4 linked regions of the Homo sapiens genome follow. The protein of the gene in region 1 interacts with the protein of each later gene in a pairwise test. Each region holds a gene or a part of one and is shown on either strand. Other genes may lie near its edges. The genes, in order: ZDHHC15, PEX16, VAPB and C14orf180.

Region 1 (7,023 bases):
TGTTTCTTTATTGCTTTCTTCCTCTTTTCTTCAACTCTCCTGCCCTGCCTTAGAGGCCTTCTGCACTCCAGTGTTTACAAGTGGCCCAGAGAAAAATGGGTTCAACCTTGGCTTCATCAAGAATATCCAGCAGGTGTTTGGAGATAAGAAGAAGTTCTGGTTAATACCTATTGGTTCCAGGTGAGTAAATATTACCACTGGAAGAAGTTAGTACTGGACCCTGCCTTGAACCAGCAAATTCAATTTTGATTGTAGTATGCAGCAGGTATCAGTCCAGTGTGAAACTCTATTCCCCAAGTTCTTCATTTCTAGGTTAATAAAGGCAAATAAAGAGGTGAGGGTCTGATAAAATAGATATTCTCATGCTTTCTTTGTGGCAGTGTGCAGTGGCACTACCAATCTTTTATAACTGAATTTGGTAATATCTATCAAAAAATTTAAGAATCTACTTGCCCAACATCCCAGTAATTCCATTTCTGGGAATTGAATCTACCCTAAAGACAGAGACAAACTATGCACAAAAATGTTCATCACAGCATTATTTATAGCCAATAATTAGGAAACAACCTAAACAGCCAACAATATGGGAATATATATATATAATATATATTATATATATATTATATATATATTATATATATATAATATATATATATACACACATACTGGATGGAATATTATACAATCAAAAGTAATGGTTATAAAGACTATGTCACAAAAAGGGAAAGTGCTTACTATATTTTAAGTGAAAAAAGAAAAATCCAATACACTGTGATTAAAAACATAAGTATATATAGAAGAAAAACAGCAGAAGAGAAATATACCAAAAAATGGTAAAAATGGTACTATATTTTAAGTGAAAAACGAAAAATTCAATACACTGTGATTAAAAACATAAATATATATAGAAGAGAAGCAGCAGAAGAGAAATACACCAAAAAATGTTAAAAATGGTAAGGGCAATAGTCTTAGAAATTATTTATATTTTCTCCATTTTATATATTTTGTGGTTAATACTAATATTATTTTATGAATAAAAATATGAAAAGCAAGAACAAAGATTAATTTGAGGTTGTAGGTAATTCTTTTTTTATTATACTTTAAGTTCTGGGGTACATGTGCAGAACATGCAGGTTTGTTACATAGGTATGCACGTGCCATGATGGTTTGCTGCATATCAACCCATCATCTACATTAGGTATTTCTCCTAATGCTATCCCTCCCCTAGCTCCCCACCCCAGGACAGTCCCTGGTGTGTGATGTTCCCCTCCCTATGTCCATGTGTTCTCATTGATCAACTCCCACTTATGAGTGAGAACATGCGGTGTTTGGTTTTCTGTTCTTGTATTAGTTTGCTGAGAATGATGGTTTCTAGCTTCATCCATGTCCCTGTAAAGGACATGAACTCATTTTTTTGATGGTTGCATAGTATTCCATGGTGTATATGTGCCACATTTTCTTTATCCAGTCTATCATTGATGGGCATTTGGGTTGGTTCCAAGTCTTTGCTATTGTGAACAGTGCTGTAATAAACATACGTGTGCATGTGTCTTTATAGTAGAATGATTTATAATCCGATGGGTATATACCCAGTAATGGGATGGCTGGGTCAAATGGTATTTCTAGTTCTAGATCCTCGAGGAATTGCCACACAGTCTTCCACAGTGGTTGAACTAATTTACACTCCCACCAACAGTATAAAAGCGTTCCCATTTCTCCACATCCTCACCAGCATCTGTTGTTTCCTGACTTTTTAATGATTGCCATTCTAACTGGCATGAGATGGTGTCTCATTGTGGTTTTGATTTGCATTTCTCTAATGACCGGTGATAATGGGCTTTTTTTAATATGTTTGTTGGCCACATAAATGTCTTATTTTGGGAAGTGTCTGTTCATATCCTTTGCCCACTTTTTGATGGGGTTGTTTGGTTTTTTCTTTTTTTTATTATACTTTAAGCTTTAAGGTACATGGGCACAACGTGCAGGTTTGTTACATATGTATACATGTGCCATGTTGGTGTGCTGCACCCATTAACTCATCATTTAGCATTAGGTATATCTCCTAATGCTATCCCTCCCCCCTCCCCCCACCCCACAACAGACCCCAGTGTGTGATGTTCCCCTTCCTGTGTCCATGTGTTCTCATTGTTCAATTCCCGCCTATAAGTGAGAACATGCGGTATTTGGTTTTTTGTCCTTGTGATAGTTTGCCGAGAATGATGGTTTCCAGCTTCATCCATGTCCCTACAAAGGACATGAACTCATCATTTTTTATGACTGCATAGTATTCCATGGTGTATATGTGTCACATTTTCTTAATCCAGTCTATCATTGTTGTACATTTGGCTTGGTTCCAAGTCTTTGCTATTGTGAATAGTGCCGCAGTAAACATACGTGTGCATGTGTCTTTATAGCAGCATGTTTTATAATCCCTTGGGTACATACCCAGTAATGGGATGGCTGGGTCAAATGGTATTTCTAGTTCTAGATCCCTGAGGAATTGCCACACTGACTTCCACAATGGTTGAACTAGTTTACAGTCCCACCAACAGTATAAAAGTGTTCCTATTTCTCCACATCCTCTCCAGCATCTGTTGTTTCCTGACTTTTTCATGATCGCCATTCTAACTGGTGTGAGATGGTACTCATTGTGGTTTTGATTTGCATTTCTCTGATGGCCAGTGATGATGACCATTTTTTCATGTGTCTTTTGGCTGTATAAATGTCTTCTTTTGAGAAGTGTCTGTTCATATCCTTCGCCCACTTTTTGATGGGGTTGTTTGTTTTTTTCTTGTAAATTTGTTTGAGTTCATTGTAGATTCTGGATATTAGCCCTTTGTCAGATGAGTAGATTGCAAAAATTCTCTCCCATTCTGTAGATTGTCTGTTCACTCTGATGGTAGTTTCTTTTGATGGGGTTGTTTGTTTTTCTCTTGTAAATATGTTTAAGTTATTTGTAGATTCTGGATATTAGCCCTTTGTCAGATGGATAGATTGCAAAAATTTTCTCCCATTCTATAGGTTGCCTCTTCACTCTAATGAGAGTTTCTTTTGCTGTGTAGAAACTCTTTAGTATAATCAAATCCCATTTGCCAATTTTGGCTTTTGTTGCCATTGCTTTTGATGTTTTGTTCATGAAGTCTTTGCCCATGTCTATGTCCTGAATGGTATTGCCTAGGTTTTCTTCTAAGGTTTTTATGGTTTTATGTCTTACATTTAAATCTTTAATCCATCTTGAGTTAATTTTTGTATAACGTGTAAGGAAGGTATCCAGTTTCAGCTTTCTGCATATGGCTAGCCAGTTTTCCCAACACCATTTGTTAAATAGGGAATCCTTTCCCCATTGCTTGTTTTTGTCAAAGGTCAGATGGTTGTAGATTTGTGACGTTATTTCTGAGGCCTCTGTTCTGTTCCATTGGCCTATATATCTGTCTTCATATCAGTACCATGCTATTTTTGTTACTGTAGCCTTGTAGTATAGTTTAATTTGCGGTTGTAGGTCATTCTTAGAACTGCAACAATTATGCAGGGAAAGTAGTGGATGAGAAATAAACAGTCAAGCTTGTGTTCTCTGAATGACTTTGTGAACCAGATTGAACCACCATCAACTAAACTAGTTCTAGAGCAGAGCTTGCTTATAGCCTTCTTGCAGCCACTTTTCAGTCCCCTCCTTAGACAGGAATACACTCATGTTCACTTAGTTGAGGTAACTTTGTTGGGGGTAGGGTGGTAATTATGGAAAAATTTCTCCTTGATTGATTGCCTTGATACTTCCTGTGTAGCAGTTAGTATTTTAAAGACTCATGTATTTCAGAGATGTGGTGTATCCAACTAACCTGTCTATAAATCACAAGGCAAAACTATGTCAGTGGGTAATATTGATTAATAACTGTTACCAGATATTACCTATACCCTATTCACATACTCACATACACAAATATCCACACATCATCACCACATCAAAGGGAGATGTAAAATCAGTCTTCTCTGGAATAAAGAACAAAACCAAAAATCAAAGCCCATTCATTTATAATCAGTACACTTACATTCTCTTTAGAGTGCTATCAATAAAATCTGTCAAATTTCAATTTACCACATACATGAACAGGAGAAAAGGCATAGGTAACATCAAAAGTCATTCAGACTCAAATGTGGAATGCATTCAGATACCTAAACTGAAATGTTCAAACTGTAGCCTCTTCTAGCCAGGGCCAGCTCAGTTCCCTCCAATGCATCCCATCTGTTAGTGGCCAGAAATTACCCAAGGAGTTGACCCTAGCTTACCACAGGTAGCCACAAAGCGAGACCCCACATGTGGATAATTGCCCTGAAAATCTGCAGTCTAGAGATGGCTCACTCTGGCTCTTTCCCCTAGTTCCTAATAACCTTTCTGCCATGCACACCAAATAAATAACAGTGCATTTGCGCATTGTCTTTCACCAATTCACACCAGCTTATCTCCACTGTATTTAGTGTTTCAGAGACTGGTCATCTTTCTTGAAAACTTAGAATCAAAGCAGTGAGATAATTGGATATAAATTGGTATCATCATCATTAAGTGATATGTATGAAGCTTGCTGTGTGTGCATATTGCCATACTGGGCATTTTGGGAAGCAAACTATAGAGTTCTTACAAACAAGAAGTTAACACTGATGCAGACACACAAATAAGATATGGAAATCGAGAGCAATATAGCAACTAAATAATGCTATTGTAAGAGCCCATTCCACCATGGCTTTAGACAATGAGACTAAATATGGCTAAGAACCCCCCTCTTGTTTTTAAGAGGATTATAACCTTCACAAAAGTCTATGTCAGCTGCAATAGGTCACTGCCTTTCTTTTCCCATCAGCCCTGGTGATGGACACTCCTTCCCTATGAGGTCTATGAATGAGTCACAGAACCCACTGCTAGCAAATGAAGAAACCTGGGAAGACAACGAGGATGACAACCAAGGTAAGTGGGGTCAAAGACTATGAAGTCCACATTAATACAACCAATGTAATGTGGTGAGTAAATAGTGTCCAGAAAGATTTTATAAGCATGTCAACCTCATAAGTGTCCTCTGGATGGTGGAGAGCAAGTATGGCCATATTTGTTTAGTAACCATGGGTAGTTTAGATAAGATTAGATTGCAGCTTGGGAGGCTCCTTACCAGCTTTGTGATTCTGTGATTTATATTACCAGTCAGATATACATCTGGATATATATGGATTTCTAAACAATCCTGCTGGGTAGTCACTTGTAGTACTTTGCTTGAATGTGGAGTTCAATTTAATCAATGGGCAACATTGCACCTTTCTCCATCCTCTTTCATTCACATTGGTTAAATTTTCTTTAAAATCCTATACTCACTCTCTTTTTAGAATGGTTTCAATACACTAAAAACTAAAAGATAGTAATGGGGCAAGCCTACACATGCATGTAGTCTACTTTTCTAAAAGGAAGAGGGGCAAAGGAAAATAAGCTTCAACTTTCTCCTACCAGGTCACTGGGTCATCCTAAGGCATTTTGTAAAGAGCTAAAAGTTGAGTTCTCATATAATGTATCCCCATTGCCAGCCCTATTCCTTGTCTCCACCTGTTGCTGTGCCTACTTTTGTGTCTCCAACATTTACTTATGTTGCTAATACCAACCATTAGAAAGTAGTTTTGGCTACTGTTCCCAATAATGCAGTAGCTGGCAGCAATTTTGAGTAGGAACTTGTAGTAGCTATCACAAACTGTACCTGGGGTGAAGGAGGCTAAATGAAGACATGGAAAAGTATTGAAGTGGGAGCAGCGGTAGAGAACAAGCCTTTCTAATTTTTTACCCAGTTGGATTATCCAGGCCCTGATTACCAGGAAATCTAGTTTTAGAGAAAAGCATGTTACTAGGCCCAAGGAATACAAAACAGCCACAAATCCATAGATAAAAAAGAAAACAGTTATTGTCCATCCCAAAGAACTTACAAGGGCAACTCCCTTACTTCCTCCTGCTGACTATTGGAAAATTGACTATATTTTGACCTGTCTTCCTTCAGTCTTCAGTCTTTCTGAACTGACTTTTACTTACAGCAGTCACAAGTTATAACAACTCTTATTTTGGTATTAAACCCAAACTCTAATAGAAGCCAAATAATTATCAGGTCTTTACCTGGTTTGAAATAATTCACAATGAAAAAAGCTATTCATAGCTGAGCTTTGTGTTGGCAAGTGGAATACTTTAAATGTAGATATAGCATCACATCATAAAGAGGTTATATTTTGAAGCAGTCTCCAATTCCAGACCTTTTCAAAAATATTCAATCATTAAAAATTAGTATGTTATTTTATAGTTTACAAAGTGCTTTCCTATATTTTTTCTTCATATCCTTTGACCCTCACAACTTTCAGGTTAGATAGGCAGTGTTATTAATAGCATCCCTATTTTATAATTAAGAAACTAAAATTGAGAGATGTTAATCTCACATGTCAAGGTATCTTGATTCCAAATCCTAGTTTTTTTCCACTACAATGCTAGGTCTCTCCTTTGGACAAGTACATATGAGACACAGTGCTGTGATTGCATGCCATTTAGTGATCTGAAGCATTCAACTGCTTCTTACATAATCATAAAATCATAAACTGTAAGGTGCCTTTAGCTTTAGCAAGACCACTATGCCATCTTAGATAGCTGAGGGGTTTTTTTTAAGTTCATTGAAGGAGACTCCACAATCCTCCTTTGTAACCCATTCTAGTATCTAATGCAAGTTCTCATGCTGTGTTATTTGTTAGGTTGATTCTATGTTAACTTCAGTTGCTCCCATTTTCTGTGCATAACTGTCATAGACAAACAGTTCTTACATTTTTAACAACTTAGATTCCTAGGAAAGGTGCTGTAAGTTGAAATTACATGTGTGTATTTAAGTTAATTTCTTTTAGGAATCAAGTGGAATTTTTATTCCTAGCCCAAAATATAACATTTCATTTAGTATAAATGTGCTTGTATGGCCGGGCGCTGTAGCTCACGCTTGTAATCCCAGCACTTTGGGAGGCTGAGGC
Region 2 (7,917 bases), on another chromosome or scaffold:
CGACGGCCGGGTTGTGCGGCTCGCGCCGAGCCACCTCCCTCACCTGCTCCAGCGGCTCCCGGGCTGGGCCCTGCGCTCGCAGCCGCCGGCCAGGGTGCGGGAACCAGGGGAGAGGCGCGGGCCGGTCCCGCCCCCGACCTGGGCTCAGGTTTCACCTCAGCGGGGCTGAGCGCGAAGGGGCGGGGTGACCCCCCCGGGGTCCTGGCCCCGCCCCTTGGGCCGGCATCCGACGGTTCCCCAGCCCGCGAGGAGCCCCCGAAGCCCCCTTCTGGGCTGAGTTTCCCACCAGGACGAGGGGAGGGCTGGGGGAGCGGGAGCAGCCACCCGCGAAGGCCCGGGCCCCGCTACCTGCCCTGACCCCCTGCCCTGCCCCCGCTCTGGGGCCGCGTCTCCTCCCCTCACTCCCCAAGGGGAGGGGCCAGTGTCCCCGGGCCCGGGATCAAAGACACTGCGGGAGCTCGACACGAGGGAGGAGGAGGGGGCCGGAATGCAGGCCGCAGGGTCTGGGACACCTGCTCTGGGGACAGGGGCGGAGCCGGCCGACACCTGCGCCAGAGCCGCGGAGCACCTGAAGCCTTCGCCTCACTCCCCCACTCTCAGTCCAGGTGGCCCGGCCGGGCCCTGCCGGCGCCGCCAGGACAAAGCGCCCTTGTGAAGGCCGCCTCCCGCCCGGGAGCTGGCGAGGGGCCCCAGACGCGGGCGGCCTAGGCTGCCTGGGCAGGGCCGGGGATCCCCACTCTTGTCCAGATCGTCGTGATTGTGCCCGGGCGCACCGGCCTGGAGCTCGTCTTTCCTCCCTCTCCCCCGCGCACCCCATAGCAGGCCAGGGAATGGGTGGGGGGCGCTCTGGACCCTAAACCAGCACAGCGTGCCAGGCCCTGTGCTAAGGATTTAATCACCCTCGATTAATCCCATGATGCGGGCTAATTCTCCCCCGGAGAGTTTAAGTGACCTGTTAGACAAGAACACCCTCCGGCCCCTCCCGTCTCAAGCGGCCCCACTCCGTTCCCCAGGCTCTGCGCTGCAGAAGCAGCTTTCTTGCTCCTCCTCCGGAAGGGTCTCCCGCCCCAGGACTTGCCCTTGACGTTCCTTCTGGCAGCGGAGCCTCCCAGGGCTGGCTAGCACTCATGGAAAGTTGAAGTTGTTTGCTTGTTTATTGCAGGTCTCCCTCCCAGAATGTAAGCTGCTCACCGGACTGGAACCTTGTCTGTCCAGTCCCCAGTGCCCAACCAGGGCCTGCACATACCAAGTGCTCAATACCTGTTGAAAGTGGATTGGAATGAGAATCTCCCCTCCCATGACCTGGAAAGGGGGCTCAGGCTGTGTCATTTGCCCAACTTCTGGCTGCAAAAAGTGAGGCAAACTCAAAAGAAGCTGTGGAAAGCAGCCCAACCTGAGACCCCCTTTCTCTGGGAGATGGGGAAGGTCAGGCTTTGGGTCTCTGGAGGGCAGGGATAATGGTTGCTATGGAGACTGATGGTGGCTCCTTGTGCACCCAGAAATTGAGAAGGGCCATGCACTGGCCACTCAGGCGTCTGGAGCTTGAGCCTCCAGCCTCCCTGATCTTCATCTGTAGCCTAAAGCTGGGGTGGGGAAATGTGATTCCCTCTCCAGGACCCTCAACAGAGACGGTTTGTGGGGGTTAAACATGTGAGACCAGGCCAGAACAGTGGCTTATGCCTGTAATCCCAGCACTTTGGAAGGCCAAGGCAGGTGGATTGCTTGAGCCCAGGAATTTGAGACTAGCCTGCTCAATGCGGCCAAACTGTATGACTGCAAAAAATACAAAAATTGCTGGGCGTGGTGGCATGTGCCTAGTACTTGGGAGGCTGAGGTAGGAGGACTACCTGAACCCAGGAGGTCAAGCCTGCTGTGAGTTGTAATCACACCACTGCACTCCAGCCTGGGTGACAGAGTGAGACCTTGTCTCTAAAAACAAACAAACACCATATGGGATCCATAGTTGGGTGCTGGCCCAGGATGAGTCTTCAATAAAGGGGCTGGGGGAGTCAGTGCAGGAAGCTGGGTCTGCAGATCTCACTGTAGTCACTCACAATGTTGGCCCTTCTTCTGGCTCAACCTCACCACTCAGGGAAACTGAAGTGCTGAGATACCTGCTAGGCCCCCAAGGGGTTGTTCTGGGGGCGTGGAGGGAGAAAGAGGGACACGTATGGGCATATAAACAGGTGCTGTTCCTCTTGGCCTAAGACCCATTTTGACCCAGCTCTGCCCAGGACTTTGCTGTGTGACCCTATTAGACGAGTGAGGCTCCATCTCTGGGCCTCTGGTACTCTCGTAGGTAAATGTTGGACTGGTCTACCTCTCTTCCCCTGTGACTTGGGGCAAACTGAAGGAGAGAGGATACGGCTCAATCTGCCCAAAGGTCCTTCCAGCCCAACAAAGACGGCCAAGCCCAGGCAGGGGGCCAGGGAGCAGGGGAGGGGCCTCCTGCACACACCGCAACTCTTTGTCTCTGGGCCCTAATCCGGCCTGGGATCTAGAGAGGAAATTCAGGCAGCCCTGCTGCTGCCAAGCTGGCTAGACCCATGCTCCCCTTCCCAGTTCTGCAGGGAGGGAGAAGAAACTGGTTCCAGCCCAAGCCCCTTCCTATTCTGTCCTGGGGAGTCTGCCCCTCTCCCCTCCACACCTTGCTCTCAGAATCAGGACCTCCAGCCCAAGGAGTGCTGAAGAACCTCAAATTCTCTCTCTGTACCCTCTCCACAGCTGCAGAGGGAGGGCTGGAGGAGTGGCCAAACTGGAGGTTTGAGGAACAAGTTCACTAAGGTGTTGGTGCACAGCAGGGCCCTGCAGGGCTCAGTGGCTCACACCTATAATCCCAGCACTTTAGGAGGCTGAGGTAAGCGGATCACCTGAGGTCAGAAGTTCGAGACCAGCCTGGCCAACATGGCGAAACCTCGTCTCTACTAAAAATACAAAAATTAGTCAGGCGTGGTGGCGGGCGCCTGTAGGCCCAGCTAATCGGGAGGCTGAGGCAGGAGAATTGCTTGAACCTGGGAGGCAAAGTTTGCAGTGAGCTGAGATTGCACCATTGCACTCCAGCCTGGGCGACAGTGAGACTCCGTCTCAAAAACAAACAAACAAACAAACAAAAAACAAGGTGGGGCAGAGGAAGGGAGAAGGAGCCTCACCTTGAGGGCCCTGAGCCTAGGTCCTAATCCCAGTTGCTAACTGGCCTTATGACCAAGGAGCCTCAACATGTCACAGCTTTTGTGGGCTGTGGGCAGTAGGAGAGAGGGCACTGCCACTGGAGACCTGCGCTGTGGCCTCTTTGGCCAGTGCCTTGCTGTGCCATGTGGGACAAATCCTTTCCCCTCCTTATTGGGCCCTAATTTCCCATCTGTGAACAGTTCATAGCAACTTGGGGCTGCTGGGAGGAGGGCAAGCAAGCCTGGAACCCAGAGCGTGGCCAGAAATGATGTCGACGATGCCCATGACCACCTCCTCTGTTCTCCAAGACCTTTGCCTCTCCTCAGGCCCCTGGTCACCTTTCCCTGGGTCTTCGTTCTTTGATGTGAGAAGAGGGCAGCTTTAATCCCCCACCTGATAGAGAAGAAAACTAAGCTGTGGAGTAGGGTGGAGTGAGGGAGTGGAAGGAAGGTTGTGGTTTCCTGGTGAGGTGTGATGCTTAGACCTGGTCTCTAAAAATAAAATTAAAGTTAAAAAAAATGAATTAAAAAAAACCGCCTAGTCTCTGAGGTCAGAAAAGACCAACACTCAAATTTTGGCTGGGCGTTCTTAAAAGGATGCTTTCTTCATCTGGAGATATCTGGTGGAGAGGATTAGGTAAAATAATGTATTACTATTCTCAGGGTACCATAAATCCGCTGGCCCGCTCCCTCAGGCCACTGGCCCACGGCTCCACCCATGTCACGCCCCTTTCCCCGCAGCCAATCAGCGCTACCTCCCCAGAGCGCCCGTTCCCTCCACCACTCGCCGCAGATCTCCCGGTGCCACCCGTTCCAGGGAGGCTGCTTGGTTTGGGAAGATACTCCCCAGGGGTCTCCCCTTCCCTTGGGGGCGCAGCTGAGGACTGCGAGGTGCGTCCGAGGGCCAGAAAGCTGAGATCGATTCTGAGTTCAAGGATCAAGTCTGCCCTCAAACCATTTTACAGATCGGGAAATCCGAGACCCAGAGAAGGGATACTCCCGCCCAAGGGCCACCGAGCCGAGAGAAGCCCGGGCCAGGGCTTTCTTCGCGTATGTGGGAATGCAGGCGCGAGCCCTTTGGGGGGCACAGTCCATACGGGAGCTGAGGCCGAAGCCGGAGCACTAACTGTGCTGTCTAGGGGATCGAGACGGCACTAGAGGGCTGGACTCCTTACTGCCTCAGTTTCCCCAGCACTACCTTTGTTGAGGAAACGGAGATGGGGATACTGGCCGAACGCGCGCCTGCTGAGACACAGTGCAACTGTATTTAGACGCCCCGCACCTCCCCAAATCTGATCGAGGCTCCTTTTTTCAAGCACCCGCTATCTCTCAGCCCTTTAAAATCCGGCCCTGCCGTTCGAGTCTCTCGGCGTTCCATTGGAAAGACTCGGGGCTCCAGCTCCCTTCTCTAGAATGAACTGCTCTGACTGCCGCCCGGCTTTACCGGAGCTTTAACTGCGCAGGCGCAAGGGCAGCCAACCCGGTAAACGGAAGAGCTGGGTGCTGACGGCGCTGGGCGGGTCAGGGGCGGAGAGCGTGCTAACCAATGACTTGAGGGAGTAGGGGGCCGGGTTTGGGCCCTCAGTTGCTAAGGGCTACCCGAGTGGGAAGCGGTTCAAGAGATGGGGTGAAGGGTGGTTCACCGGTTCTTCAAGTCCTCAGCCTTCTGGCCCGCGGAAGTTAAGCAACCAAGAGGCGGGCCTAAGACCGGAAGCAGGAAGGAGGGCGCAGGAAGCAGGGCGCCGCAGCCTGTCGTACGGTCCTTCTGTGGGTCTGTCGGTGCCGAGGGCAGGATGGAGAAGCTGCGGCTCCTGGGCCTCCGCTACCAGGAGTACGTGACTCGTCACCCGGCCGCCACGGCCCAGCTGGAGACAGCAGTGCGGGGCTTCAGTTACCTGCTGGCAGGTGCCACCCTGACCTTTGATCAGTTCCTTCTGGGCCCTGACCTATGACCCCAGTGGCCCCCTTCCCTGCGGAGTCAGGGTAGTGATCGCTGTGCTTGAGAAGACCCGTCCAGGTTCCCAAAGGGCGTAGGGAGGGGATTTCCGGGACCCGAAGACGAAATGTGAGGCAGATGCTCACTCACACCTCCTTCTGTACCCTCTCCCCAGGTCGATTCGCCGATTCGCACGAGCTGTCAGAGCTGGGTGAGCCGGGCTCTGGGGGTGGGGGATGGGGGATCGGCTGCCTGGCCCCTGGTGAGTTCCCCAGAGAGGGTGAGCACCCCAGCCCGAGGACCTGGGCTGCCCGTTAGACACCTTGTGCTATGACTGAATCGGCACAAGGTCTGTTGTTCATTGTCCTGGGCCCTCCATGTCCCTAAGTCAAGAGACACGTCTGGGGACCTTATCTGAGTATTCACTACTGGCCAGGCGCTGGACTAAGTGCCTTTCTTACCTTTACTTGTTAATCCTCCCTACAGTCATATTAAGTGGTACTTATTGTCATCACTGTCCATTTAAGGAAGAAGCTCAGTGAGGTTAGAGAACAGTCACTGATGGTCCCAGAACCAAGATTCAAGTCTAGATCTCCCAGATTCCAGGATTCCCAGATTGTAACTACCTCAAGAGTGTTTGCCCAGTGACTGCTGTCACAGTCCTGAAAGAATGCACTGGGTTTTGAAAAGCAGAGGTGAGGCCAGGTGCAGTGGCTCACACTTGTAATCCCAGCACTTTGGGAGGCAGAGGCAGGTGGATCACGTGAGGTCAGGAGTTCGAGACCAGCCTGGCCAACATGGTGAAACCCCATCTCTACTAAAAATACAAAAATTAGCTGGGCATGGTAGCAGGTGCCTGTAGTCCCAGCTACTTGAGAGGCTGAGGCAGGAGAATTGCTTGAACCTGGGAGGCAGAGGTTGCAGTGAGCCGAGATTGTGCCATTGCACTCCAGCCTGGGCAACAAGAGTGAAACTCCGACTCAGAAAAAAGAAAAGTGGAGGTGGAATAGACCCTCAGGAACAGGCTGCCAAGAGAGAAAGGGCCAGGAGGTGGGACCGTGTATCTGTGGCAGTTCAGAGAGCGATGGGCAGTTGTGGGCAGCTGGATGACCAGTGCCATCCAGCAGGGCAGTAACTGGCTTGTCACTGAGATTGACCCATCCTTTCTTGGTCCAGCCACCCTTGTGAGATCATGTTGGGGAGAGGGGAGTGCTGAGGAAGTGGGTGGAGAAGAAGGTTGGTTTCCACATAGTCTGTGGGTGTCTGAGCAGAGCATGTGACAGGTGATCCCTGCAGCTCTGGGGAGAAGGTGAGAGGGATGGAGGCTGCAGAGCCAGCCTCTCAAGGCCACTCTCTACCCCTCAGTGTACTCTGCCTCTAACCTGCTTGTGCTGCTCAATGACGGGATCCTACGGAAGGAGCTTCGGAAAAAGTTGCCTGTGGTGAGAATTCTGCCAAGAACAGGGTGGGAAGCATGGGGACTCAGGAATGAAATAGTAGCAGCTAGCCCATGCGTGCAGCACATGTCTCATGGAGTATGAGACAGGCCTATGTCCATCTGAGCCTCAAACCATCTCATTAGGTGACCTGTAAAGTGTGAGTATTCCCATCTTAGATGAAGAGACTGTCTCAGGTGAAGAGAGGTAGAGTCAGCTGTTTCAGGTCCCCCAGCCTGTTAATGGTGGAGTTGGTGTTTGAACTCACACCTGCACAGTTAGGCTTGGAAAGGGGAAGGTCCACATCTCTTGTCAGAGAAGCTCCCTCCTAGGAGAAGGGCCTGGGACTCCCTGTAGTCCCAGGCCCCCTGACTTCTTGGCCTGGGGTTCTTGCAGTCGCTGTCCCAGCAGAAGCTGCTGACATGGCTGAGCGTGCTGGAGTGCGTGGAGGTGTTCATGGAGATGGGAGCTGCCAAGGTGTGGGGTGAAGTGGGCCGCTGGCTTGTCATCGCCCTCGTCCAGCTGGCCAAGTAGGTTGGGATTGTGGAGAGGGTCCTGGGTGGGGGTGACGCAGGCTAGCTACACAGATGGTGCTCAGCAGAGCATCCCTGGCCTCCCGCCGGCTAGCCACCTCCCCACAACCCTGACATACTCCCCGACCCAGGGCTGTACTGCGGATGCTCCTGCTGCTCTGGTTCAAGGCTGGCCTCCAGACTTCACCCCCTATCGTTCCACTGGACAGAGAGACCCAGGCACAGCCCCCGGGTGAGCTACTTCCCCAAGCCCTGGAGCGGAATGGGCCATGGGACTAACTTGAGGATTTAGATCCAACCAGCATGAATACAGTAGTATCTGTTTATGGAGCACGCCTGTCCCTATCAACTATGTGTTCTCATTGCCATGTATTCGACAGAGAAGACAATGATGCGGCTAGGGACAAAATCAGAACACGAACCCAGTACTTGTCATGGCCAGAGTCATTCATTTTTGTAGCCTGCAGGAAGAGGGAACAGATGGGATGCCGCCAACCTCGACTCTGAGCCTGGTTCTGTGTCCAGAACCATAGCCTCTAGAGGCAGGAGGCAGGGCACGCACCACATCTGTCCCTTCAGGGCTTTGGGCCCATCCCGTCAGCTTCTGGGCCTCACTCTCTGGACATTGAGTTGGGGCCGTTCATTGCCTCTCATCATGATTGTTTTGAAGGCAAAGGATTGAGAGGAGACGGCCCCTCTGGTGCTGTGGTCTCCATAGATGTGGTCAGGCTGGGCCTTCCCTGCCTTGCCTGTCCATGGGTTCCGGGAGGCTGGCTCTGGCCACAGCTATGCTGAGCTTTCCCCAGGCTAGGGAGGGCTGCAGAGTGCTTTCCTCTGTGGACGGG
Region 3 (7,023 bases), on another chromosome or scaffold:
GGCTGTTAGTGGCTTTGTAAGTGCATAGTACTATACAGAGATTAGACAACCACTTAACTACTTAAGTGGTTTCATCACTTCTGTACCTGAAAGGTGTGGCAGAGAATAGCGATCATTCTGGCCCTGGATTGGCCAAAGTAATTATGCCAAAGTCACTGGATATTTTTGCTAGGGAAGTGGTCCAAGAGAAGTGGTACCAAATTGTTGAAGGCCTCTGGCTCATAACTTTAGAAGAGACATCTGTGTGTGTTCTTAAATGACGTCATGAGGTGTGTTGTTTGTTTGTTTTAAACTGAATGCTAAGACAGTACAATTAATAGAGACTGAATACCCTGACTTAGAGATAATTCATTTCAGGATGAGAAATGGCACATTTAACTGGTTTCTTCCAGGTTACTCAGGGTGACGACTCTGATTTCTGGTCGTTCACCTAGATGAACCTCTGAGCTAACTTTACTTGAGAAGGTAATAACTAAAATGCCCATTCAAAGGAAAAATTATCTTTTAAATGCAGCCTAAGTTGATCGTATGGGATTGTATATTGTCAGACTCTTTAATCTTGGGAATTTTGTGTGGTATGTTAAATTTAAGGATGTTACAGAAGAAAAAGAATGCAAATTTATATGACTTTATGCAGTTTTATAGGAAGTACTATGCTGCATCATAAATATCAAAAGGAGAAAGCCTGGTGGCTTCCTGAAAGAAGCATGACACAGGAGGATTTGCCTAGACTTAAGGTTGACTTTCATGAGATATTTTTAGTAAGTGAACATTAAGCTCTTTCAGACTAGGGGTATCTTTCTGAGAGAGTAAATGTTTTTGTTTTTTGGCAGGGTCTTGCTCTGTCACCCAGGCTGGAGGGCAGTGGTGCCATCATAGCTCACTGTAGCCTCAAACTCCTGGGCTCAAGAGATCCTCCTGCTTTAGGTTCCCTGGTAGCTAGGACTACAGATGCCACCATTCCTGGCTAATTTTTAAATTTTTTTGTAAAGATAGAGTCTTGCCATGTTGCCCAGGCTGGTCTTGAATTCCTGGCCTCAAGCAGTCCTCCCGCCTCAGCCTTCCAAAGTGCTGGGATTACAGGCATGAGCCACTGCATGCAGCCTAAGTGTGTGTTTTCTTTTATATTTCTTTTTGTCTTTTTCACTAAGTCATAGGAGTTTTTTAAAATTGTCACTCTTTCTGTTGATCTCAGTTCTTCCAAGTCCTAATCGTTTCCTTGCCATCTCCTCACTCTGAGATCCCACTTGTTGTCCAGCTCAAAGAGAGCTTTCCGAATGAGTCACTTTCAAGGCATTATATAGCACTCTTCTTTCATTCCCTTCTCCCTCCCCTTCCATGAGAGTCCATCTGTGGTAAATAGTATGTCATATATTTTTTGGTCGTTCAGGACTCTAGATCATTCCTTACATCCTAGCCCATTCCCCCAGCAATGATACTGTCACATGGAAATGGTCTGTTGAACATCCATCCTCACTAGGTTAAGGTTTGTTTTGTTTTGTTTTGTTTTGTTTTGTTTTTTTTGAGATGGAGTTTGGCTCTTGTTGCTCAGGCTGGAGTGCAATGGCGCGATCTTGGCTCACCGCAACCTCCGCCTCCCGGGTTCAAGCACTTCTCCTGCCTCAGCCTCCCGAGTAGCTGGGATTACAGGCATGCGCCACCATGCCCGGCTAATTTTGTACTTTCAATAGAGACAGGGTTTCTCCCTGTTGGTCAGGCTGGTCTCGAACTCCCGACCTCAGGTGATCCACCCACCTCGGCCTCCCAAAGTGCTGGGATGATAGGTGTGCGCCACTGCACCCAGCCGGTTAAGGTTTAAACATAACTGTGGATGCATTTACTTTTGCTTTATTGCTTGACTGAACCAATGACCTTCAAGAAGTCTTAGATAGTCCTGCCATTAGTAGGGATCTCAGATGGGAGGGCACCAATGAATCAGTGTAGTTGAGTACCACTTTTGGGAGAAAATAGAAACTTGGACACTCTAAATGATAGTTTAAGGACGTTGTTTGTTTTGTTTTGTTTTTTGTATGGGAAAAGTTGGCTTAGACTCTTTAGTTCAGCCCTTCAAGTTGATGTGTAATTTAAGATTGTTTAGGAAGTTAAAAAATCTAAAGCCCTGTGGATATAGTTCATTCAGTGCAGTAATTATCTTTCAGATGCCAAGTACAGCATTAATTCTTTAGCTTTAGCATGGCACTGATTTTCTTAACACTTCATGATCACGTGGAGCAGACTGTGCTTTACAGCACAACAGAGCGTCAGCCATGTGCTGAAGATTCTTCGTGGTAGTGGTTTAGATCCACCCTGAATAGATTATCTTCATTTATTTAATTATTAAGTAGCTTGCTTATCAAAAGCGGCATTAAACTTACTAAACTTGAGTCAAACGTAAATCTTCATAGATAGTACCATTTACTTCTGAAATCTTGTTCCTGGGAGAAAAATGTGGACTGGAAGTTAACTTTCTTTTATCCACCTATTCACTCCTTTTTCTTCACAGTTAACTCCTTAGGGGAAAAAATGTATAGTTCTTGACCATGTGCTTATGTTTGTAAAGCAATGATGTTTCCTTAACGTGAGTGGTTGTGACATAGATCACTGTTATCTTCATAATTACCTGGGAGCTTTTCATCCAAGTGTGGATTTACTAAAATAATTAGTCTGAATTGATGCTTATTAAAGAGCTGAACTCTTAAACGTTAACACTATCTTGTATTTATTAAAATTGTATGCATGTTTCCTTCAAATGCTGAAGGCAGAATACTGAGAACTTTGACCCTGTGTTATTATCGCTAAGTAGTTGAAAATTAGGGGAGGAGTCAAGGGAGTATATTATATTGGTTATCACTCAAATACTACCCCTAGGCATGATTTTTAGAACCGAAACTTGAATTTTTACATAAAGAATTATCTCCAAAAGTGTCTTTTTTTTTTTTTTTTTTGAGATGGAGTCTTGCTCTGTTGCCAGGCTGGAGTGCAATGGCACTATCTCGGCTCACTGCAACCTCCGCCTCCTGGGTTCAAACGATTCTCCTGCCTCAGCCTCCCGAGTAGCTGGGACTACAGGCACATGCCACCATGCCTAGCTAATTTTTGTATTTTTAATAGAGACGGGGTTTCACCATGTTGGCCAGATGGTCTCGATCTCTTGACCTCGTGATCCGCCCACCTCGGCCTCCCAAAGTGCTGGGATTACAGACATGAGCCTCTGCGCCAGGCCAAGAGTGTCTTATATATCCCCACTTTTTTGAAAAATTTGCTGTCTAAAGGATGATCATGATTTGGGACGAATGAGCACAGCTTTCAACTAGATGACAAGAAAGATGAATACAAAGAGTGCTGAGTTCCATTAGTCAAGACAAGGTTGCCATAGAATGTCTTTAATAAAATAAAACAAAAGCCTTTTGCGTTATTTTGCACCGAGGATTGTGTTAAAAACAAAGTTGCATTATGGTTTCCAGATTGGCATCCTTGTTTTTTTCTATCATTTTAGGCCCCTTTCAGGCTGTTATCAGCATAGCATATCCAGGATTGCTTTGGCCTTGCTCAGTGGGTATGTGCGTTCTTTGAAGTTCTTACCTGACAGATGTGGGCAGCTGGCTTTACACAAGGAAGAGTTGTTTAAAGAGCTTTGGTATGGAAACAAAGTTACTAAACTTGACAGTCACTTGAGGATTATTTAAAAAACAAACAAAATAACTGAATGTGGTAAAATACTATCTCTAGAATATTTTTCAAACTGTTAAATGCATCCTTTTAACAGAAGCTGTTGATGTCTACAAACACTGTCTTTGTAGACAAAGACAAACCCCCCTTGCATGGGGGTTTGGGGGTTGGGAAGCAGTTGAGAAAATGGCATAGTCCCGTGAGAAAACCTTGGAATACTTTCTTTTAATAACATTTTTTTATTGCATAGAACTGTAAAGCTACAGAAATGCTTTCTTGGAGTTTTCCTTCATCCTTTCAGAAGGGCTAATATTGACCTTTGGTTAGCATGTTAGTATTTTCACCTGTGTCAAGTGATGTCTTCACGCTTTTGGGGGGTGTGTGTGTGCATGCCCACCTCGTGTTGTGTAGGGCACATTGGCCGATACCTATAATGTGTTTCAATTACTACATTGTTGGCATTTCAGTAGGCTCCTTCAGCCTTTGCCCATCTGGGAAGTGGAGACTAGGGCAATAAATGTTTTAGGGGTAGATTGAGACTGCAGTGTTTTTCATCTTTTAGCTTGTACTTTAAGACAATGGGATGTACCCCTAGACCATTTACCTAGATTTAAATTACTTCCTTGTGATGTGGTTTAGAGCTCTAAGTTCCTTGAGTTGTCTTGAAAGGCTGAAGGGTGCTCAGAGAATGGAGGGGAATTGAAAATGGAACCTAAGGATCTGGGAGTGGTCATATGTGTGAGTGGTGAAATGTGCCCCCCAACACCCCGTTGGGTCGGGTCTGGAGTTAAAAGCAGTGGCTGACATACATTTTGCAATATAAGGGTAAAGAAAGGTAAAGAAGGAACAAACATTTCTAGAGGATAAATGCTTTAATTCCAGAAGATAGGCCACACAGTTTAGGAACTGTGGTAAGAGGTGCTTTGCCATATTTATGTTACTGTTTAATCTGTGTAACAATCGTATGAGATGACTTAGTCAGTGGCTAGGTAACTTTCTGCTGGATGAGGCTGCACTAGTAAATGGTGGCACAGGCAAAGCCTTGTACTTTCCCTCATACCAGTATCAGCTCATTAGAGTTAACTCATAAAGGGGTTTGTTCTTGAGAGAGGGAGGCAGAGAATTTAAAACCATTAATGAAGTATTAATAGCTGTCAGGACAATTTCTTAAGAACATCAATTCATTAAGAGTTATTCTCTGAATTTTTTAGGAGGGATTTCTTGCCCTACTTTTGAAAAAGTTCAGACAGATGACTCCAAAGAATGTTTGATTTCTCTTGTGAATATTCACTTTTATATCAGATTCTGATGGTTTCTTGATTCTATATATTTAGAAAGCATTCGGCCGGGCATGGTGGCTCATGCCTGTAATCCCAGCACGTTGGGAGGCTGAGGCAGGCAGATCAACTGAGGTCAGGAGTTCGAGACCAGCCTGACCAACATGGAGAAACCCCATCTCTACTAAAAATACAAAATTAGCCGGGCATGGTAGCGCATGCCTGTAATCCCAGCTACTTGGGAGGCTGAGGCAGGAGAATCGCTTGAACCTGGAAGACGGAGGTTGCGGTGAGCCGAGATCCCGCCATCGCACTCCAGCCTGGGCAACAAGAGCAAAACTCTGTCTCAAAAAAAAAAAAAAACAAAACACATTAACTTGTGGGTAATTTGTCCTTCTGCTATCCAGTCTTTGGAAGGCAGGGCAAAGCTTGTGTGTGGTAGAGATTTCATAGGCTTGCAGGTTTGTAGAGTGGGAATTCAAGAAGTTGTAAAGGGCACTTATTAAGATAGGAATGTCTAAAATAAATGATCTTTAGCAGTGCCACCTTAAACTTTGTAAGTGTTGCTACAAAACCTTTAGTTCTGCATGCTCCTGACCAGCCATTGCCTTGGACAGAGAAACAAATAAGGGTGAGTTAATAAACTAGAGACTTGTCTCAATTGTTCAAAGAGGTAAACTTAAGGTGATTAAAAAGTGCTGTTTTATTCTGTATGAGATACACTTTGGGAAGTCGTCATTTTCCAAGACGATGATACGCCAGGCATACGAATTGGATCAGAAAGGATTTAGAGACATGCATGGATATAATGATCTCTTACAGATGTTCCTCACCTTACAGCGGAGTTACATCCTCAGAAACCCATTGTCAGTTGAAAATATTATAAGTTGAAAACATATTAGATACAGCTTAACCTACCCAACATCATAGCCTTGTCTACCTTAAACATACTCAGAACCCTTAAGTTAGCCTCCAGTTGCACAAAGTCATCTAGCACAAAGCCTATTGTATGATAAAGTATTGAATATCTCATGTACTGCATATTACTAGCCTGGGAAGAGATCAAAATTCAAAATATGTCAAAATTATGATGGCTTCACACCATTGTAAAATTGAAAAATCGCAAGTCAAACCAATCGGGGATTGTCTGTACATAAGAGATGATTGTCCAAATTAGAGCTGTTTTGGGTTTCTGCCCTTTGCAGATCCTTTGAGGTTTTCTTTATAGACAGATGACTCCTTCTGGGGGAATTGAGCGTGACTCTGATTGAGATTTGGTTCAGTTACCACATACTGAAAGCTTCCTGTGGGCCAGGCACTAGGTTGCACTGGGGACCTGGGAGGAAGGCCTAGCCCTTAAAGTTTCCAGCCTCTAGGTATTGGGAGACGAGGGAAAATGGGGACAAGATATTTATGGCCTGTCCTTATTGAGAGCTTAGAAAAAGCTGTGTTAATTCTGCTTTGGGTGTTCGATCTCACAGGGAAGATGGCATTTGAGATATGTGACTTGGCGAGCTTACACTGTGCGCTTGCCATTTTTCTAAGCGTTCATTTATTTAATTCTTAATGCAAGCCTAGGAAGTGGGTACAGTTATGATCCTGAAGTTATTAACCCAAGTTATGAACCTGACTGAGGGTTGGAGCTGGGATTTGAATCAAGATCTGTCTGATTGCAAAGGCTATGGCTTTTTTTTTTTTTGTCGTCATGCTGGCTGTGTTTCTTCCCTTAAAAGATAAGTGGGAGTGTGCCCTTGGCTTTCTTATTTATTATGTTAGGAAGATGAGAGGAGGAGTGAGACTAGAGAAAGAGGCTTGAAAGAGAAATGGGATAGAAAAATAAAGGAAAAGGCTGGGCACAGTGGCTCACACCTGTAATCCCAGCACTTTGGGAGTCTGAGGTGGGTGGATCACCTGAGGTCAGGAGTTCGAGACCAGCGTGACCAACATAGTGAAACCCCATCTCTACTAAAAATACAAAAGTTAGCCGGGCGTGGTGGTGCATGCCTGTAATCCAGGTACTGGGGAGGCTGAGGCAGGAGAACCGCTTCAGCTGGGGAGGTGGAGGTTGCAGTGAGCC
Region 4 (7,023 bases), on another chromosome or scaffold:
TGGACGCGCCCTCCCCAGCAGCGGGCCTAGCGGGACACTTACAGGTCCAGGCTCTGAAGCTATTTTCCGCCCTTTATCTCCCATCTGTCACGAGGCCTCCAGTTACACACTGTCCCTGCCAGAGGCCCCAGGCCTCCCCGCCCCCACCTGCCGAGCATGCCAGAGCCACTCCTTCCCTGCTTCCACTGGGGAAAATGAGGCCCAGGGAGGTCACACCACTTACCCGAGGTCACAGAGCCAAAGAAGGACAGAGCCCAGGACTTGAGCCAGACCTCTCTTCCAGAAGGGGAAGCGTGAAGCCCAGTTAGGGAGGGGATGGCAGGGCTCAGGGAGGCTGTCTGGGAGCAGAGCATGGCCCACGTGAAGGTGCATCTCTGGAGAGGGGACCGCGGAGCTCAGGGAGGCTGCCTGGGAGCAGAGCGTGGCCCACGTGAAGGTGCATCTCTGGAGAGGGGACCTCAGGGCTCAGGGAGGCTGCCTGGGAGCAGAGCGTGGCCCAGGGGAAGGTGCATCTCTGGAGAGGGCCCCAGGGCTCCCGGAGGGGAGGTGTCATCCCATAGGATGTCCTGACTGTCCAGACACAGCCAGAGCCACCTGAGCTCTGTTCCTGGGCACATTCCCTCCCCGAGTGATGCCAACAGTGGCTGATGGCACAGAGCACAGGCTTGGTGCGGACTCGGGTCTGTGCACTGACTCCCACCCTCACGCGAGCCCGCAGAGGCTGCTGCTCTCCTCACCCCCATTTCACAGCTGAGCAGACCAACGCCCAGGCAGATTAGGAGACTTGCCTAAGGTCACACGTGGTCACACAAGGTGCTCTGGAGCCCACACCTGAAGAGGGGGAGGTGCTGTCCCGTAGGAAGTCCTGACTGTCCACATTCCGGCAGAACTCTGTGCCCCAGAAGGCGAAGTCGCGTCCTCCCCAAGTTATGCTGCTCAGCAACAGATGGTTAATGCCACAGCCAGGCACCCTCACAAACACACTGCCTACGCCTGCACATTCACATACACTCTACACAAACACACACACATTCACCCACACATACGCAGATACACTCACACACACACACGGGCACATGCATGGACACACACACACATGCATATTCACATGCACGCACAGAAATACAAGTACACATATGCACACATAGCCACACCTCCATGCACACATTCACACACACAGACACCCCACACGTGCACACTCATGCCCTCTGACACACGTGCCCACTCTCACACTTGCACACTCAGGGGAATACTCACACATGTGTGCACTCACACACGTGCACACACACACTGTTTTCCCACCATCCCTTGGACAGACCCCAGGCCAAGGAGGGGTGAATAGCGAGAGCTGCTGGCAGGAGCTGGGGGAGACTGCGTCCAGCCCTGCATCCCTGCGTGACTCCGTCGGCCCAAGCCTCTCCAGGCCTGTTTCCCCATGAGGAGTGAACCTGGCTGGGCCCCCTGGAATGCTGCTGCAGGGTCGCCTGGCAAGGGGCTGTGGCCCTGGGCACGCCAGCCAGCCCCAGGCCGTGCAGCCCCAGGAAATGACCCCGAATGCACAAGCCTCCTTCCGCCGGGCAGTGGGAGAGCCCGGGCTCTGGGTCCAAGAGGTCACTGGGGGGCTCTGCTCCACCCCCAACCCCACCCTGGGCTTTAGCAGAGTTTCTATCCCACCCAGGGTGGAAACTGAGTCAATGGCATCCAGAGAGCCCTTCCAGCCCCAGCCCTGCTACGGACAGGCAGTCAAGGTTGCCCTGCCAGGCAGCATCCCCAAAACACCAGGACAGGCCTGGCACTCTGTGGCTTCCCTAACCCTGGGGATCACGCAGAGCCCACATTCCAGGTGACCTGGCCCCAGGAGACGGGGCCCCAGCTCAGCTGGGCCTGCAAGCACAACCTCTCCCACAGCCACTCTCTGAGAGCAGGTCCTGAAGATAAGCCGCCCCTCCCCGCCACCCCCCTGGATGGCCGGCTCCTGCCACAACCCTATTTGCAATAAAAACCTGATCCGGCGATAGCAGAAAATTGCTCTCTTTTGAAATAATTGAACCCGTCCAGACAGTGTCCTCCCAGACATCATTAACAGGGCACTCTGCTTGTCTGCAGTATTTATGCCCACTTGGGGAGGTGGTCATGGCCACCCTGTTATCTCCTGTAGAGGACGGCACACGGCTGCTGGAGTCACTGCAGTATCCACCCAAACCACTCCTCCCACAGGCCTGCCCTGAACCTCTGAGGCACCCATCCCTTTGGGGGACCCTGGAGGAGTTATCCTTGAGGACCATGTAGGCCCCTCACTCTCACCCTCCCCCTTCTCAGCCCTTGGGGGCAGGGTCCTTGGAGGACCACGGGGAGCCAGGGAAGCATCTCAGGAAATGCAAACACCTGCCCTGTGAGGGGCAGGGGCGGCAGTACCCTCCAAGGACCCCAGGGCAGGGGAGAACCTGAAGGGCAGCAGGAGGTCCCCACACTGCCCCCTATCCAGCTGGGAGCAGGGCAGGGAGGACCTGGCCTGGCATCAGCTCCCAGGGAAGCCCCAGCCCCCTCTGGCCTCAGTTTCCCGACCTGAAGCAAGAGAGGCAGGCTCATCACCCCCAGAGCCCTTGAAAGGCAGACACCTGCACCTGCACAGATGCCTGGTAGGCACTGCACCCCTCTGTAGGGAGGAGTGCCCAAAAGTCAAGAACCCTGCCAAGGCTGTGAGAGAAAATTCACACTTGGGGGGCTCCACCGGTGAGCACGAATGAGGAGAGCACAGCCTCTGCCGCCAAAGACACGGGGGTGGAGGCGAGGAGGCGCCATTCACAGCCAGGAAGCAACCAGCGCAACAGAGGAGGGGACAGAGAGACAGAGATAGAGGTAGAGAGATAGAGAGAGAATCAGAGAGAGGAAGGGGGACAGAGACAGAAACAGGGAGATAGAGACAGAATTAGAGAGAGGCAGGGAGACAGAGATGGAGACAGAGAGAGAGACATAGAAAGATAGAGACAGAATCAGAGAGAGGCAGGGGGACAGAGAGATGGAGACAGAGAGATAGAGACACAGAATCGGCGGGGGCGCGGTGCAGAGAGAGACACAGAGAGAGAGTGTGAGCCGTGCTGAGGGGTGGGCCCCCAGGAGCCCAGGGGCGCCCCACCAGCACCAGCCCAAAAAGGTGGGCATGACCCTCTGGGAAGCCTTTCTGTGGACCCGGTCTCAGAGCCCTGACAATTCCCAGTCCCCAGCCCCAGGGCTTCCCGCTACCGAAAGGAGACAAAGCAAAGATGTTTCTTGCAGCCTTATCCATGACCTCCAAACATTGCAAATGACAATACTAAAATGCAACCCTCATGAATACCCAATCATCGAGGGTGACTTTCAGTGACGGGACCTCGGCCCAGTGGAATATTATGCAGCCATTAAAGATGATAATTATGAAGACCGTGGCAGCAAAGGAAATTGCTTGCGATGGCATTTCTGAACGAGCAGGGAACAGGATTTACCTGCACTGGGGACACCACAGAGGAAAAGTGGTGTCTGCTCAACAGCGTGGCCGGTCGCAAGCCCGGGAAGCCAGCCTGGCTTCCAGGAAAGAATTTTCTCCTCCTCTTATTTTCATTCCTCTGAGTGCCACTTGTGCAGTAAATAATAAATAACGTCTCTGCTTATCTTAGGACCATGTTCCAGTAAATGAGGACTGCAGCAGGAGCCGTGAGCCCTGACTCCCGGCCAGAGACACGACGTCAGACCAGAAAGAATGAGGAGGCCGCGTGGGGCCCGCGGGTGTGCAGGGCAGAGAGGGTAAGGCGGGCCGCTGGGACACAGCTTCTGCAAGCTGGCCTTCCACTGGGGGCTGGAGGGGGCAGGGAGCAACAGACGTGGAAAGGCCATCCTCCACCCCAGGAATCAGGGGGTGATAGGAGGAGGGCAGGGGGATCACTGAGGGCTGGGGGGAGCAGCGGGGGGCAATGGGTGCCTTGAAGGATTTGGTCTGGCAGAGGAGATTGGAGGCCCCCAGGTGGGGCACAGCTTGGCAGAGGAAGTGGGAGCCATGGAGGGCTGTGGAAGAGGCAGCTCAGGGAGGAGGGTGTTGGAGGAGGGAAGAGGGTGGAGAGAGGACAGGTCAAGACTGTCACCAAGGGTCAGTGTTAGGGTTAGGGGCCCAGACCTCAGACCCTGAGGCTCCATCCAGCCTCTGAGGCACTGCCAGGCTGGGGCATGCCACAGGCACAGCAGGAGCTGGGCCAGACTCAGCATGGGCAGGCCTCACGCCCTCGCGGGGCAGCCTCGCCAGATGCCGAGCAGCAGGCTGTGTACAGCGAGCAATGCCCCAGCCAGGAACAACCTCAGAGCTGGCCCGGCTCCCAGGGTGCCTCAGCCCCAGTTGTCACCATGTCACAGACAAGGATGCTGAGGTTCACAGCAGCCCGAAACTCCCACTCCATCTTCCAGACTCAGGCTGGGCCCATACACGTGAGCAGACCAGCAGAGAAAGGGCCCAGGTAGGCAAATGTGTAGGAGCTGCCCCCGCCTGCAGCCTGGGAGGCTCGGCCCCAGGGAAAAGGAGGCCGAGGCCACCAACCAGCCCTCCTCACGGCCCTGGCCCGGCCCCTGCCCCATAGAGCTTGCAAACTCTGGCCCCTTAGCCAGAGCCCCTCTGCCATTGCAGCCCCCTCCCCCTGTCCACATGTCCTGGGGACCCTGTCCAGCAGCCTGCATCCGAGACAGCGGGCAGACGAAGAGAGGTTCAGTGGGGACTTGCGTGAAGAGACGGGGTCAGGAGGGGCTCCTGTCTTGCCTGGGCCCCTGAGGCTGAGTCTGGCTGCCCTGCAGTCCCTGTCCAGGAGCTGCCCCTCACCCTACAGGAAGTGACAGGCCCAGCATAGCGCACCAGCCAGGACAGGGTACAGGTTCCAGGACGGTGCTGCTGGGCCCCACATGGCTCAGACCTGGGTACCAGCGGCCTCCCGCCGGGGACTCACCAGTCTGCTTCCCGCCCCCACACCAGGAGGACAACAGGAAGTGCCCCCCCTCCATCCTGAAACGGAGCCGGCCGGAGCACCACCGCCCAGAGGCCAAGCCCCAGAGGACCTCGAGGCGCGTGTGGTTCCGAGAACCCCCAGCGGTGACCGTCCACTGTAAGAGGGCACCCGCAGCAAGCAGCTGGGAGAGGGTGGAGTCAAGCAGAGGGAGGCGGGGACACCGGCCACACCCACACAGCTCTGGCAGGGCCCAGGACATGGGGGGGCCGTGGCCACCTGCCTTCAGTGCCACAACCCCTGTAAGACCTGGGCCCCTGGGGTCATCTGGACACACAGTCCCGGTCCATGAAACAGCAACTGGAGGAGAACATGAGGGCGGATTCTCAAATCATGACTGTCCCTTTGAGGAAGTGTCAGGACCGGCTGGGCCTGGGTCTCTCACTGATGAATAGTCTCAGGGTCCTTCGGGGGTGCAGGGTGAGACGAGAGGGCGGGGGCGCCCGATGGACTGAGGCAGGTGCCCCCAGCTGACTCTCCATTCTCTTTCGCAGACATTGCTGACAAGAACGCCACAGCCACTGTCAGGGGTGAGTTCTGAGCCCACATCCCTGTGCCCCACTGCCCCCTCCGTGGGTGCACCCACCCTCACTCCCTCCCCGAGGGAGGTGTCACAGGGCCAGGGCCTCTAAGGAGTCCCCAGTTGGGGAGCTCTTGTTGCAAGGAGACCCCAAGAGGCTAGGGAGGGGCCATGGGCATGGACAGGGTGGAATCTCCCCATCCCTTCCCCACCAGCCCCAGTCCTCCAGGGAAGGGTCGCGCTGGCTGGCGCTGACCCTGCCTGCCCTCTGGCCGCAGTGCCCGGCCGGCCCAGGCCACACGGCGGCTCCCTGCTCCTGCAGCTGTGTGTGTGCGTCCTGCTCGTGCTGGCCCTGGGCCTATACTGCGGCCGGGCCAAGCCCGTGGCAACGGCACTGGAGGACCTGCGGGCCCGGCTCCTCGGCCTTGTCCTGCACCTGCGGCACGTGGCCCTCACCTGCTGGCGCGGCCTCCTGCGGCTCTGACGGGCAGGACGGGCAGGACGGGCAGGGCTTCCAGGAGAGCTCAAGCACTCCGGGGGCTCCGAGACAGCCTGAGCCCTGGCCCTGCTGCTTGGTGAATCATGGGGGCCAAAAGGGGCTGCTGCCTGAGGGCTAACTAGGAAAAGGGGGACCCCGTGGCGTGAGATCGGACATGGGGGGCACAGCAGGCGGCCCCGCCACACTAGTCAGCACAGCCCTCCTGTCTCCTGTGTTGGGTCCATGTGAGATTTTATTAGAAAGAGGATTCGACTGCTAACAGTTGAGGCTCCCCAGGCTCACCCAAAGACCCCTCCCTCGTCCCAGCAGGAACTCCTGCTGCTGCTAGGGCCTGGCCCGGCCATCACCGTGTGCACCCTCTTGAGGAGGGGGACACACTGCCCGTGTTCAAGGGGCTGCTCGGAGGAGGCAAACCCAGCCTTTTGCGATTATGGCTTGTGGGGAATCCAGACCTCGAAACCCCACGGGGAGGGAAGGGTCTGGTTGTCAAGGTGGGTCCCTTTGATGTGAGGTGCCATCCTCTGAGCCCAGGTCTGACCCCCCTACCCAGCCCCGTGAGTCTGGAGAGGCCCCAGGGAAGGACCCCTCATCAGGGGCGGCTTCAGGTGTAGAAGCCGAGGGGACAGCAAGGGGCCCAGACACCCCCGACCTTCAGAACAGCCATCTGTGCCCAGCTCTGCAGGCCAGGCACACCCAGCTGAGCCCGGGGCCAGCCAGCACCACCCACCAGCTGGGGCCTGTGGGTCCCGGAGACCGTCTGTGGTTGTGGCTTTGTCGCCGGATTGCAGAGCTGAAGGGAGCCCTGTGGATGACAAACACCAGGGGCCTCTCCAGACCCTACGTGGGGGGAGGGCTGAACAAAGCAGGGAGGCCCACGGTTAGACACCAGGCAGAACTGCCCAGGAGAGACACAGGGACAATCAGACCAGCGTCCTCGAGGTTAGCCTGAGGCGGGTGGGCACGGCCGACCATCCACCCGGTGGTTC

Evidence for each region.
Region 2: the proteins of ZDHHC15 (region 1) and PEX16 interact in binary tests that used the Homo sapiens proteins (3 or more experiments, as listed by UniProt).
Region 3: the proteins of ZDHHC15 (region 1) and VAPB interact in binary tests that used the Homo sapiens proteins (3 or more experiments, as listed by UniProt).
Region 4: the proteins of ZDHHC15 (region 1) and C14orf180 interact in binary tests that used the Homo sapiens proteins (3 or more experiments, as listed by UniProt).

The regions. Positions count from the first base shown.
Region 1 is NC_000023.11:75,415,021-75,422,043, reverse strand, and holds part of ZDHHC15 (palmitoyltransferase ZDHHC15), read left to right. Parts: intron 1-53; coding exon 54-180; intron 181-4,853; coding exon 4,854-4,957; intron 4,958-7,023. UniProt on the Homo sapiens protein: Palmitoyltransferase that catalyzes the addition of palmitate onto various protein substrates.
Region 2 is NC_000011.10:45,914,855-45,922,771, reverse strand, and holds the start of PEX16 (peroxisomal biogenesis factor 16), read left to right. Parts: upstream 1-4,894; 5' UTR 4,895-4,960; coding exon 4,961-5,072; intron 5,073-5,278; coding exon 5,279-5,314; intron 5,315-5,630; exon of another isoform or gene 5,631-5,773; coding exon of another isoform or gene 5,774-5,798; intron 5,799-6,468; coding exon 6,469-6,545; intron 6,546-6,935; coding exon 6,936-7,069; intron 7,070-7,203; coding exon 7,204-7,304; intron 7,305-7,917. UniProt on the Homo sapiens protein: Required for peroxisome membrane biogenesis. May play a role in early stages of peroxisome assembly. Can recruit other peroxisomal proteins, such as PEX3 and PMP34, to de novo peroxisomes derived from the endoplasmic reticulum (ER).
Region 3 is NC_000020.11:58,392,226-58,399,248, forward strand, and holds part of VAPB (vesicle-associated membrane protein-associated protein B/C), read left to right. Parts: intron 1-7,023. UniProt on the Homo sapiens protein: Endoplasmic reticulum (ER)-anchored protein that mediates the formation of contact sites between the ER and endosomes via interaction with FFAT motif-containing proteins such as STARD3 or WDR44.
Region 4 is NC_000014.9:104,582,762-104,589,784, forward strand, and holds part of C14orf180 (nutritionally-regulated adipose and cardiac enriched protein homolog), read left to right. Parts: intron 1-3,653; 5' UTR 3,654-3,669; coding exon 3,670-3,780; intron 3,781-4,987; coding exon 4,988-5,117; intron 5,118-5,512; coding exon 5,513-5,548; intron 5,549-5,816; coding exon 5,817-6,022; coding exon of another isoform or gene 6,023-6,117; 3' UTR 6,118-7,023.